Linked DNA regions of Homo sapiens: region 1 is linked to region 2. A link means that fine-mapping ties the variant in region 2 to the expression of a gene that starts in the linked region. Tissue or cell type: monocytes after LPS. Region 2 holds a variant in brackets; the other region holds the start of a gene. All regions are shown on one strand. Distances are from middle to middle.

The links. PIP is the estimated chance that this variant, and not a neighbour inherited with it, causes the effect.
Region 1: it holds the start of FBXO28, and the variant in region 2 is fine-mapped to the expression of FBXO28 in monocytes after LPS (Quach 2016, PIP 0.95).

What each region holds. Positions count from the first base shown.
Region 1 is chr1:224,109,549-224,116,235 of GRCh38, forward strand. It overlaps FBXO28 (F-box protein 28), which reads left to right and starts at 4,563. Exons shown (of 5, transcript NM_015176.4): 1 at 4,563-4,848. The coding sequence starts at 4,582. It overlaps LOC105373056 (a long non-coding RNA gene), which reads right to left and starts at 4,492. Exons shown (of 3, transcript XR_007066897.1): 1 at 4,387-4,492; 2 at 1,215-1,981. RefSeq lists enhancers at 4,206-4,335, 4,356-4,415, 4,556-4,625.
Region 2 is chr1:224,084,557-224,091,815 of GRCh38, forward strand. No RefSeq gene overlaps it. Among named protein-coding and RNA genes, the nearest start is that of FBXO28, 26 kb to the right of the region's middle. The variant T/G (reference allele first, on the strand shown) is at 3,434.

The DNA of each region.
Region 1 (6,687 bases), 25 kb after region 2:
ATTACAATCTATTAGTGGAGATAAAACTAACATATTATAAATATGCAAACATGTCAGAAAGAGTCAATCATAAAGCATATGTTGAATGCTAAACAACCCAAAGTAGGAGAATCAAAGGAACAACTTCAAAACTTTTGCAACAATCATAGGTAAAATGATAATTGTTCACATGCCAAGTGAATGGGGAAAGGATGCCAATTCTAACAAGCTCAACACCACCAATTAATTTCTTTGCTTCAGTTGCCCCCACTTCCCTTAACCTTTAGTCATACTTAGTTTTTTCTGCAGTTTTCACATCTACTGTGCAAACATTAGATTCCAAAAGAAAGCTACAAAAGAAAGGACATATTGGAAGCTTTAAGAATAAGACCAAAGCACTAGGGAGAAGAAAGCTTCAAAATTTAATGATTTGGCAGGCATGGTGGCTCATGTCTGTATCCCAGCACTTTGGGAAGCTGAAGTGAGAAGATTGCTTGAGCACAGGAGTTCAAGACCAGCCTGGACAATATAGTAAGACCTCATCTCTACAAAAAATTTAAAAAGTAGCCAGGCATGGTGGCGCACACCTGTAGTCCCTACTTGGTAGGCTGAGGTAGGAACATTCCTTGAGCCCAGGAGGTCAAGGCTGCAGTAAGCCATGATCATGCCACTGCACTACAGCCTGGGCAACACAGTGAGACCCTGTCTAAAAAAAAATAGTGACTTGTATACCTTTATCTTTGTCATAGGATATTATAAGTATACAAACATACAGAAAGTTTAGGCAACCTTTAAATTTTTTTTCTGAAATAATTACAAGATAGTACAAGGAAGACTCTGGTATACCCTTCAACCAAATTCATCAATTAATAACATTTGCTGTATTTGCTATATTAACCTCATTCTCTATCTATTTACTTGAACCATTTGAAAGTAATTTGAGGCATCATTTCCCTCTACCCATAAATACAGAAATACCTCTGAGATATTGAGAGTTAGACCACACAGGCCACCATAATAAAGCAAGTAGTGCAATAAACCCAGTGACACAAGTAAGTTTTGGTTCCCAGTGCATATAAAAGTTATGTTTATATAAAACTGTAGTCTATTAAGTGTGCAATAGCATTATGTCTAAAAAATGATATACTTTAATTTTAAAATATTTTATTGCTAAAAAATGCTAATCATCTGAGCCTTTGGTGAATCATAATCTTTTTGCTGGTAGAGGGTCTTACCTCAATTTAACAGCTGCTGATCGATCAGGATGGTAGTTACTGAAGGTTAGGGTGGCTGTGGCAATTTTCTAAAATAAGATAGCAATGAAGTTTGATACACTGATTGACTCTTTCACAAAGATTTTTTCCATGGCATATGATGCTGTTTGATAACATCTTGCCACAGTAGACCTTTTTTCAAAATTGGAGTCAATCTTCTCAAACTCTGCCATTGCTTTATCAACTAAGTTTATGTAATATTCTAAATCCTTTGTTGTCTTTTAATAATGATCACAGCATCTTCACCAGGAACAGATTCCATATGAAGAAATCACTTGCTTTGCTCATTCATAAGAAGCAACTCCTCATCCATTCAATCCATTCAAGTTTGGCTTTTTTTCTTTTCTTTTTTGAGCTGGAATCTCGCTCTGTTGCCTAGGCTGGAGTGCAGTGGCACGATCTCAGCTCACTGCAACCTCTGCCTCCCAGGTTCCAGCAATTCTCCTGCCTCAGCCTCCCGAGTAGCTGGGATTATAGGCGCATGCCACCACGTCTGGCTAATTTTTGTACTTTTAGTAGAGAAGGGGTTTTGCCACATTGGCCAGGCCGGTCTCGAACTCCTGACCTCAGGTGATCCACCCACCTGGGGCTCCCAAAGTGCTGGGATTACAGGCGTGAGCCACCGCACCCGGCCTCCATTCAAGTTTTATCATGAGATTGCAGCAACAATTTAGTCACATCTTCAGGCTTCACTTCTAATTCCAGTTCTCTTGCTATTTCCACCATAGCTGCAGGAGAAGAAGAGAGATGGGGAAACAGCAGCCAGTCAGAACACCTACATGTATTGATTAAATTTGCCGTCTTATATGGGTATGATTGGTGGCACCTCAAAACAATTACAATAGTAACATAAAGATTACTGATCTGCCAGGCATGGTGGCTCACTCTCGTAATCTCAACACTTTGGGAGGCCAAAGCAGGCAGACTGCTTGAGCACAAGAGTTCAAGGCCAGCCTGGGCAACGTGGCAAAACCCTGTTTCTACAAAAAAAAATCAAAAATTATCCAGGTGTGGTGGCACACACCTGTAGTCCCAGCTACTCAGGAGGCCAAGGTTGGGGGATTGCTTGAACCCAGGCGGTGGAGGCTACAGTGAGCCATCATCCTGTCATTGCACTCCAGTCTGGGCAACAGAGCAAGATGCTGCCTCAATAAACAAAAAAAATTACTGATCACAGCTCACCATAACAGATATAACAATAATAAAAAGTTTTAAATATCAGAGGAATTATCAAAATGTGACAGAAAGAAACAAGGTGAACACATGCTGTTGGAAAAATGGCACCAAGAGACTTGCTCAAGGGTTGCCACAAACCTTCAATTCATTTTTAAAAACGCAATATCTGAGAAGCACAAGAAAGCAAAGTGTAAAATACAAAGCATGCGGCCGGGCGCCATTGCTGCCTGTAATCCCAGCACTTTGGGAGGCTGAGGTGGGTGGATCACAAGGTCAGGAGTTCGAGAGCAGCCTGGCCAAGATGGTGAAATCCCGTCTCTACTAAAAATACAAAAATTAGCCAGACGTGATGGTGGGCGCCTGTAATCCCAGCTACTCAGGAGGCTGAGGCAGGAGAATTGCTCGAACCAGCTGACATCGCACCACTGCACTCTAGCCTGGGTGACAGAGCAAGACTCCATCTCAAAAAAATAAATAAATAAATAAAGGAAAATAATAGAAGCATGCTTATCCTTCAATGTGTATTTCCTAAAGACAAAGACATTGTCTTATATGACCATAATACAATTACCCAAATCGAAAAATTTAATATGATTACAGTATAATCTAATATACTGTCCATTTTTAAATTTTGCCAGTTGTCACAATAACGTTCTTCATAGTTATTTCTTCCTTAATCCAGGATCCCATCCAGGATCACCCATAGATTTAGTTGCCCTGTCTCTTTAGTATCCTTTAATCTGCCACAAACCCTTAGTCTTTGTCTTTTGTAACGTTAACACTTTTGAATAATTTATGGGCCCGTCATCTAGCGATGTCTACCTCAAACGCAACTCGTGCTTTTTTTGCATGAATACTACATTATGCTGCGTCCTTTTCAGGGTATTATATTAATAGGCATATGATATTGGCTCCTCCTATAACTGTGGCGTTAGTCTTGATCATTTGGTTATGATGGTGTCCACCAAATTTCTCTATTGTAAACTTTTTTTTTTTTTCTCGCTCTGTTGCCCAGGCTGGAGTGCAGTGGCAGGCTGACGGTTCGCTGCAGCCTCGAACTCGTGTGGCTCAAGCAATCCTCCCATCTCAGCCTCACGAGTAGCTAGGACCATAGGACCTAGCCACCACATTTGGCTAATTTTTTGTATTTTTTGTAGAGATGGGGTTTCTCCACGTTGCCCAGGCTGGTCTCCAACTTCTGGGCTAAAGTGATTCTCCCGCTTCAGCCTTCCAAAGTGCTGGATTACAGGCGTGAGTCAACACGCCCAGCCTTGTAAACTATTTCTTTTCATCTTTGTAAATAATACATAATTTATGGGGAGTTATTTTGAGACTATGGAAATATCATGTTCCTCATCACGTTTACCTCCTAGTTTTAGTACCTTTTGATGATTCTTGCCTAAATCAGTTATTAGAATACAATTCATATATGATAAAATTCATTAAAGTATATAGTAATTCAGTGGTTTTTGTATATTCATACGGTTGTGTAACCATCACCGCTAATTCCAGAGCATTTTTATCACCCCGAAAATGAAACCCTTCACCCATTAGCACTCATTTCCCCATTTCCCCCAGCCTCTGGCGACCACTAATCTACTTTTTATCTCTATGGATTTGCCTATTTAAGACATCCTATATAAATGCAATCATACAATATGTGGTCCTTTGTGTCTAACTTATTTCACTTAATATGTTCTCACGGTTCATTCATGTTGTAGTTCTTATTGATATTTCATACCTTTTTATTTGCCTAAATCAATCATTTCTATGATTCCTAAAAAATGGTGCTAGTCTAACTACATTATTTCCATCTACACTTACTAGGCAACATCTTTATCATCCATTGTCAGGAAGCCCTTTAAGAAAACTGCACAGTGAAGTTCATTTTAATAAATAGGGTTTCCTTGCTCTCAAGTAGTTACTAATCTTAGACAAAAGGGTCTAGGATGACCACCTTTCTTGAGGTTTACATGATCTTCCCTGACTTCCACTTGAAAGGCACCCTGTGAGTCTCTCTCCGCCTGTTATCCCACAGGCTCCTCCCCACTCCTCCAGGTACCCCTTCCCCGGCGGCTGCAGGAGGAGGAAGTGACGCACCGGAAGTGTCCCTGTTCCCCTTGCTGTGGGGGTAAGGAATCAAGCCCCCAAGATGGCGGCAGCGGCGGAGGAGCGGATGGCAGAGGAAGGAGGCGGCGGCCAAGGCGACGGCGGTTCCTCTTTGGCCTCCGGCTCTACCCAGCGACAGCCTCCACCGCCCGCGCCACAGCACCCGCAGCCGGGGTCCCAGGCGCTCCCAGCCCCCGCGCTGGCTCCGGACCAGCTGCCTCAAAACAACACGCTTGTGGCGCTGCCCATCGTAGCCATCGAGAACATCCTCAGCTTTATGTCCTACGACGAAATTAGCCAGCTCCGCCTGGTGAGGCCCCCGCAGAACTCCTGCCTCCCTCTCCCCCCGGCCGAGGTCTGGGAGATGAGAAGGGAGCGCGTTCCCCGGGAAGGGAGCCCCCCGCGAGCCCCAGCCGGCTACAGATCTGGGAGGGAGCCGCTCCCGTCCCGAACTCTCCCTTGGCGTCAGTCAGCAGGAGTGGGCTGGTTCCCGATTGCGTCCTAGCTGCGGAGCTGGGGTTACTTCCTGAGGGGACTTCGCCTTGGGGGCTCCTTGCCCCCCGCCCGGAAGCGGGCCCTCTACGGGAGGGGTAGCGGAGTTGGTCTTCCCACCTTCCGCCTGGCCCGAGAGTAGACCCGGAGAGGTCATGTCGCCTGCCTTTTGTATGCCGCTTCCAGCCCCCGGCCTGGGTTTGGGGAGAAAACTCAGAAGTAGGCAGATGATCCCAGCCAGGTTTGGTTTATCTTGCAAGAATAACGAATTGTTCCCCACCCCAACCACCCAAGTTTTCTTGTTCGAGAAGATTGAGTAGACTAAGGTGGCTCAGTGACCCCAAACCCAGGTAGAGGTTCCGAAGAATTCGAACGTGTTTACTTAGCGTTAGCCCCAGCGCCCTAATTGACCACTAAAGTAGAGCCTTGGGAAATGACCATTCCTGCTTTGCCTCATCCTAACGCTTCCCACCGTAGAGAAGCAACTTACCCCTTGACGGGTTTTTTCTCTTTTGCAATTTATTTTTAACTAGTGATTTACGCCCACCCACCTGCTTTAGGAGAGGTTTCTTTATACCTTAAAATCACAATAGGTCAGTCCATGATTTTTAAAAATAATGAATTTGCCATTGGGGTTTTACTTCACTCCAGAGGTTTGAAGATGTGGTGATTGTTAGTTCAGTTAGATATTTTGCTGCCTTTCAATGAAATTATCTTTAAGTGGTAAAGAAATTGAAGGAGGTGGACATTTTGAAGTGATTGCAAACCGATTCCATGGAGAAGCTAAATCTGTGCTGGGAATTGTTTTTAAGAGGACAAAGATATTTCTGAATGTGCTGTGTATAACATCTTCTTATTACTCAATATGCTATATTGTAGGCATACACCTCCACTTTCAAGTGGATTATAATTACATTTTTAAAGGAAATCATAACATTTTTAAAAGAGAACTTATAAATATTAATTCAAACTGATGGCCAATTTTTTTTCTAGTCAACACAGCAGTTCAACCATGCCAGTCTGCAGGATGGAAAATTTCTTCAGCTGAAAATAGATATTTCACAATTGATTGCCTCTGAATTTCCAAAACGTTTTCATTCTAGAATTTCATGTAGAATCTTAAATATTCCTTCAGATTTTTACAAACAGTGGCGTTTAATCAAAATTCGCGCTGTACATATACAGTGTTTGGAAAATTGGGCATATAACATTTGATTGAATTGAACCATTCAACCAGACAATGGCTTTGTAAATCTTGGAATATTCACAGTTCTGTTTTGTAAGTGTTGAGAAAAACTGAGTTTTATTTGTTTGTTGATCATTTTACTATTTTAAAAAAATGTAGTGGGGAGGGGGGAACCAGCCTGTCCTAACTAGAGTTAAAACACATCCCACAACTTATGAATAAATGACATCTCTGTCAGGTGAGATATTCAGCTGCATTCTTAATTTTTAAGCAGTTTTCTGGCCTTTTAAGGTTATAAATTTATAATTTCAAACTCAGATTTTTCATAAGGAGTCCCTTCAGTACAACTGCCCACCCCCAGGAAAAGATTCTGCCCCGTTTTACATGTGCAAATATGATTTTTGAGTAATGGGGAACTATTTTTTTTACTTAAGGCTAATGGATAATTCTTGAATAGATTAAATGGATAAT
Region 2 (7,259 bases):
AACAATGTTCATCTTAAACTGTATGCCAGGCATGGTTCTAAGTACTTTATAGTAATTATCTCATTTAATTCTCAAAATAATTCTATGAGGGAGTTATATTTATCGTTCCTATTGCAGATAGGAAAACTGAGGCATGGAGAGACTGAATGACTTACCTTAGATAAAATAGGAAGTAAGCTGTAAAGTGAAGATTTGAACCTCTAGTGGCCAGAATTCAGAACTATTGCACTAAAACACTACATTACACTGCCTCCAATAAAAAAAACTGCAGGCTGGGCACTGTGGCTCACACCTGTAATCCCAGCACTTTGGGAGGCCAAAGTAGGTGGATTGCCTGAGCTCAGGAGTTCAAGATCAACTCTACAGGAGATGAAACCCCAGCTCTACAAAAAATACAAAAATTAGTCAGGTGTGGTGGCGTGCACCTGTAGTCTCAGCTACTCAGGACACTGAGGCAGGAGGATCGCTTGAGCCTGGGAGGTCAAGGCTGCAGTAAACAGAGATTGCGACACTGCACTCCAGCCTCAGAGTGATATCCCATCTCTACAAAAGAAAAACCAAAAAACAAAAAACCTCACACTGCAAAGCCTCACATTAATTTCCCAAAGTTCCACTTTCAAAGAGTTGCTTCCCCTAAGGTTTAACTACTATTCATATGTCATTGTTACAAAAGAGGATATAAAGTATCTCAATAATTCTACAGTACGTCATAATTAAAATAAAATCAATGGAGTAAATTGGAACAAGGAGAATATAAAAATTAAAAAAATAGAATGAAGCTCAGAGCAAAATGAAAGCTATGAGGGTTTATTCACCGGAGAGATAGAAATTACAAAGTTAACTCTGAATGTTCAAGATTCCAGGCAAAGAAAAAATATATATGATCAATTACATGGTCCACAGTGCTCTCAAAAGATTAAAGAAAGTAGTTGCACAGGAAAAAAAATATATTATCCCTAGTTGAAACCAGAAGAAAATTTTTCCTGTAGGCTCCCACAAAGGAGACACTGTGTAATACAGTCATCAACCACCTCAAAAATATCTATAGGATGCTGAAACAATGCTATCCAGCTTCCTGCTGATGGTCCAACACATGCACAGATTTTAGAATCATTAGAAATATTGATGAAATGCCTAACTTATCTTTTTTTCTTTTTAAATTTTATTTCTCAATTTTTTTATTCCTCCTACTCTCTGATACCTGCTCTTTTGTGGTTTGAACATTAGTGGAAAATCTGTAAAATTTGGGGCTGAAAATGAAGACCAGGTATAAAATCACCATAGCCACTAAAATGGCTACAACGAAGCAGAAAAGGAGGGGGAATAAAAGGAGGGTGTGGTTCCCTCAATAAAGAAACTGCTTCCTTCATGCTGACAAACTAACCCTCATCTCTCTATATATATATATATGTTCTGCATTCTGTTATTCCCCCAGTCAAATTTATTATTTTTTTTTAATTTTTTTTTGAGACGGAGTTTCACTCTTGTTGCCCAGGCTGGAGTGCAGTGGTGAGATCTTGGCTCACCGCAACCTCTGCCTCCCGGGTTCAAGCGATTCTCCTGCCTCAGCCTCCCGAGTGGCTGGGATTACAGGCAAGCCTCACCACACCTGGTTAAGTCGGTATTTTTAGTAGAGACAGTGTTTCTTCATGTTGATCAGGCTGGTCTCGAACTCCCGACCTCAGTGATCCACCCGCCTCGACCTTCCAAAGCTCACGCCTGTAATCCCAGCACTTTGGAAGGTCTGGGCGGATCACCTGAGGTTGGGAGTTCGAGACTAGCCTGACCAACATGGAGAAACGCTGTCTCTACTAAAAATACAAACTTAGCCAGGTGTGGTGCCGCATGCCTGTAGTCTCAGCCACTCGGGAGGCTGAGACAGAAGAATTGCTTGAACCTGGGAGGCAGAGGTTGCAGCGAGCAGAGATCATGCCACTGCACTCCAGCCTGGGCGACAGAGCGAGACTCCACCTTGTTAGATATGAGTTCTAAATTTCTTTTCAAATAATTAATATGTCAGTATGTTCAATTCTTTGCCTTCTACTTTTAAACTTAACTTCCTCGTAAAGCAACCTTTTTCGATTACCCTCCACCCTGACTCCTTCCGATTACCTACTCCACCCTGACTCATTCCAATCACCTGCTCCACCCTAACTCATTCCAATTACCTGCTACCTGCTCTGCCCTGACTCCTGCCAAAGCACTCACCCCGTCATTCTCTTTAAATTAGCCAATCGGAATTAGTTTAGCCTGTGTGGTCTAACCCTAGCCAATAGGGGAACGACACAGCAGCAGGGGCCACATGTGTCAGGGATAAGAACCCCTTCCCCTCCCTTGTCCAAGTGTGTGCTCACCATTGTTCCATCTATAAGGGTGCACCCTTCTATATAGAAGTACCTTGCCTTGCTGAGAATTAAAAAGAAAATTTTATACTCGAGTGTTATTCCTTTTGTGGCACCGAAACTTTATATATAACACACCTCAAAAAAAAAGAAAACAGACAGGGTCTCACTCTATTGCACAGACTGGAGTGCAATGGTGTCATCATAGCTCACTACAGCCTTGAACTCCCAGCCTCAAGTGATCCTCCCGCATTATCCTCTCAAGTAGATGAGACTACAGGTGTGTGCCACCACAGCTGGCTAATGTTTTTATTTTTTGTAGAGGTATGGTTCTCACTGTGTTGCCCAGTCTGCCTCAACTCCTTGGCTTCAAGTGATCCTCCCTCCCTGACCTCCCAAAGTGCTGGATTACAGGCATAATTGCATCTGGCCCTAGTCAAATTGTAAATATGCTATTCAGACACACTAGATTCAAACACTTACAGCTTCTTATTTTGAAGTTGCAATATGATACTTATTCTTTGCTGTGAAATCTAAATCCTCTGAAACCACCCTCCACAGCCCAGCAGGAAAATGTCCTGCCACACGTAGCTATTTGAAGTCTCTGGCTCGCCTATTTGAATGCTCATTATTTCCTAGATTCAAATGGCCTTATAAATGCACCTATTGTATGATTATGGAAGAACTATTAAAAATAATTCAGGAAGCCAAAGGTTATAAAACAGAGACATGAGTAATTGCTTTGGTCTGTGATCTTTAAATGGCATGCATAAAAGACCAAGCATTTAAAGTGGGGCAGGATAAGGCAAAACACAGCACAACTTCCCAGAATGTCCTTTAGCAGATCAATGCTTATGGCTGTCTAATTTCATGTGATTATTAGAATAGACAAGTGAAGGCCGGGCGCGGTGGTTCATGCCTGTAATTCCAGCACTTTGGGAGGCCGAGGAGGGCAGATTCCTTGAGCTCAGAAGACCAGCCTGGCAACATGGTGAAACCCTATCTCTACTAAAAACACAAAAAATTAGCCAGGTATAGTGGCATGTGCCTGTAGTCCCAGCTACTCAGGAGGCTGAGGTGGGAGAATCACC[T/G]GAGCCCAGGAGGTCAAGGCTACAGTGAGCTGAGATCATGCCACTGCATTCCCACCTGGGCAAATGGAGTGAGACACTGTTTCAAAAAAAAAAAAGACAAGTGAGTCTCAAAGGAAAGAACTAACCATGAAGGGGACTTCTCAGAACCTGGAGAAGTGGACTATGTAAATTGAAATCACATTATAATGTTATACTATTATTTATATTGGTTAAAGGAAAAATGCATATCTTCATTGTAAAAACTTCTTCCTCTTTTCCTTTTTTTTTTTCTTTTTTTTTTTTAGATGGAGGGAGTCTCCCTCTGTGGACCAGGCTGGAGTGCAGTGGCACGATCTTGGGTCACTGCAACCTCCACCTCCCGGGTTCAAGCAATTCTCCTCCCTCAGTCTCCCGAGTAGCTGAGATTACAGGTGTGCACCACCACACCCGGCTAATTTTTGTATTTTCAGTAGAGACAGGGTTTTGCCAGGTTGGTCAGGCTGGTCTCAAATTCCTGAGTTCAAGTAATCTGCCCATCTTGGCCTCCCAAAATGCTGGGAAAGGTGTGAGCCACCATACCTAGCCCTGTAAAAATTTCTACAAGTAACATTTGCAAAAAACAATCTTGGCTGCTGAGAATACAAAGAAACAATGATTCTCAGAGTCATAAGAAAGCAGGGGAAATGAGGGTGTGCCTCTCTGTGGATACACTCAGCACCTCAGGACAGGACCTGAGATATCTATGATTATGAAAGATAACAGGGGCCATGCACAGTGGCTCACAAACACTTTGAGAGGCCAAGGCAGGAGGATCAGTCGAGCCCAGGAGTTCAAGATCAGCTTGAGCAATATCACAAGACCTCATTTCCACAAAAACAAATTTTAAGTTAGCTGGGCTTGGTGGTGTGCACCTGTAGTCCCACCTACTCCAGAGGCTGAGGCAGGAGGTTTGCTTGAGCCCATGAGTTTGAGGCTGCAGTGAGCTATGATCACAACACTGCACTCCAGCCTCTGACACCACAGGTGACAGAGTGCAACCCTGTCTCAAAAAAAAGGATAATGAAGAAGGTATAAAAGAAGACATGGACTTAAAAGTTTAGAAAATTGGCCGGGCATGGTGGCTCACACCTGTAATCCCAGCACTTTGGGAGGCCAAGGCAGGAAGATCACGAGGTCAGGAGTTCAAGACCAGCCTGACCAACATGGTGATAGCCCGTCTCTACTAAAAATACAAAAATTAGCCAGGCATAGTGGCGGGCGCCTGTAATCCCAGCTACTCAGTAGGCTGAGGCAGGAGAATCGCTTAAACCTGGAAGGCAGAAGTTGCAGTGAGCCAAGATCATGCCACCGCACTCCAGCCTGGGTGACAGAGACTCCATCTCAAAAAAAAAAAAAAAAAAAAGTTGGGAAACATTGTACCAGCCAGTGGGCTGTGTCTAACTCATCTTCCTTTCCCCCAAGCCTATAATTCCATTTAACAAAACTCTAGCACAAATAAATCTAATCTATGGTGATGGAGTGAATATCAGTGGTTGCTTGGGGCAGGGGCTGTGGGAAATGGAAACTGATTGGAAAGGGGCAAAAGGAAACCTTTCGGGGTAATGAAAATGTCCTATATCTTGAGTATGGCGGTGGTTGTATGAGGATATATATTTATTATTCATCAAACTGTACCAATAAGTGTGTACACTTTATTATATGCAAATTGTACCATTATTAAGGTTTTTTTAAGACTATGTTGCCCAAGGTGAACTTGAACACCTGGGCTCAATCAATCCTCCAGCCTCACCCTCCTGAGTAGCTGGGACTACAGGCACACGACACCACGCCCATCTGTTAAGTTGATTTTAAAAGGAACCACAACATGTTCAAAAGAGAACCCTTGCCCTAAACCTGCTCCTCAAGTCTTCCCCATCTCAGGAAATGTCAACTCCATTCTTTCATTTATTTAGATCTTGGAGTCATCTTTGACTGCTCTGTCTATTTAATCTACATTTTCTTTATTTTCATTTACATTTGAAGGACACCCAGACTCTGATCTCTTCTTAGTACTTTTCCCTCTTCCATCCTGGTGCAAGCCACTGTCCTCTCACTGATGCAGGAAACTCTGAACTGGTCTCCCGCTTTCATAGCCTCCTGGCTTCTCCACTATTCTCCCTGCCATGACCAGAGTGGTCCATTTGTAATATTTTTGCTCACATGACTCCTGTGCTCAACACCCCCCATAGTTTCCTTTCTAATTCAGTACAAATTCCAGAGTGCTTACATGGCCTGCAAAAGAACCTACGTGATCTGTCCCCAACCCTCTCCCTCACATTCACATATTCTCTCCCACCCTCAACGCACACACCTCTACGCTTCTCATTACAATTCTCTATGCTCACTAGGCTCACTGCCCTCTATGCTGTTTTTCAAACACACCAAGCACACTTCCGCCTCAGGACCTTTGACTTGTGCCTTTGCCTTCAATAACATTGACATCCTCCCAGATATCCCGAGGCCTCATCAGAGAAGCCATCACTGACTGGCCCATATAATAGCATTCCTTCTCTCTCTCTATCCCTCAGTCCTGCTTTATCTTTCTTCATTTAACTTGTCTTACAGATTGTATGTGTTTTTTCTCTCCCCTAACTAGAATGTATTTTGTATGTTTTGTTTGCTGCTGTATCCCAAGAGCCTAGAGCAATACCTGGCATATTAAAGATGATCAACACATTTTTGCTAAATGAATTAATGAGTCCATTTTTCTTTCCTTTCAAGTCCTGACCATGAATATTTTAAAATTGGCCTGACTAAAATGTAACTCTTGGCTGGGCGTGCTGGCTCACACCTGTAATCCCAGCACTTTGGGAGATCAAGGAGGGCAGATCACCTGAGGTCAGGAGTTAGAGACCAGCCTGACCAATATGGTGAAACCCTGTCTCTACTAAAAATACAAAAATTCCCCAGGCGTGGTGGTGGACACCTGTAGTCCCAGCTACTCAGGAGGCTGAGGCAAGAGAAAGAGAATCACTTGAACCCGGGTGGCGGAGGTTGCAGTGAGCTGAGATACTGCCACTGCACCCACCCTGGGTAACAGAGTGAGACTCTGTCTCAAAAAAATAAAAAATAAAAATAAAATGTAACTTTTGATTATTCTCATTGTGCTGAAACCTGTGCCTCCTTTAGTCTCTTTTTCCCATTTAAAGGACTCATCCTTCACCTTCGTGCTCAAAAGACTGGAAATCATCCTTGATTCCTCTCCTTACCTCATCTACCACATTCAATCCATCAAAGATGCTTTTATTAATAGATCTATCTCCAAAATATATCCTAATCCAACTATTTCCTTATATCTCTACTGCCACCATCCTAGTGCAAGCCAACATTGTCTCTGCCCTGGATTATTAAAATAGATTCCTGACTATTCTACCGATATCCTCTTCCAATTCAATATCCACACAGAAGCTGGTGACATTTTCTTTTAGTGGTTGTTGTTTTTTTGTGGGTTGTTTTTTTTTTTTTTTTTTTTTTTGAGACGGAGTGTCCCTCTGTCACCCAGGCTGGAATATAGTGGCGCAATCTTGGCTCACTGCAACCCTCGCCTCCCAGGTTCAAGCAATTCTCCTGTCTCAGCTTCCCCAGTAGCTGGGATTACACATGTATGCCACCACACTCGGCTAATTTTTGTATTTTTAGTAGAGACAGGGTTTCACTATGTTGGCCAGGCTGGTCTCAAATTCCTGACCTCAGGTGATCCACCTACCTTGGCCTCCTAAAGTGCTGGAATTACAGGTGTGAGCCTCCATGCCCAGCCGCTGGTGACATTTTCAAGTCAGAATATATTATTTCCTGATGAAAAGACCAC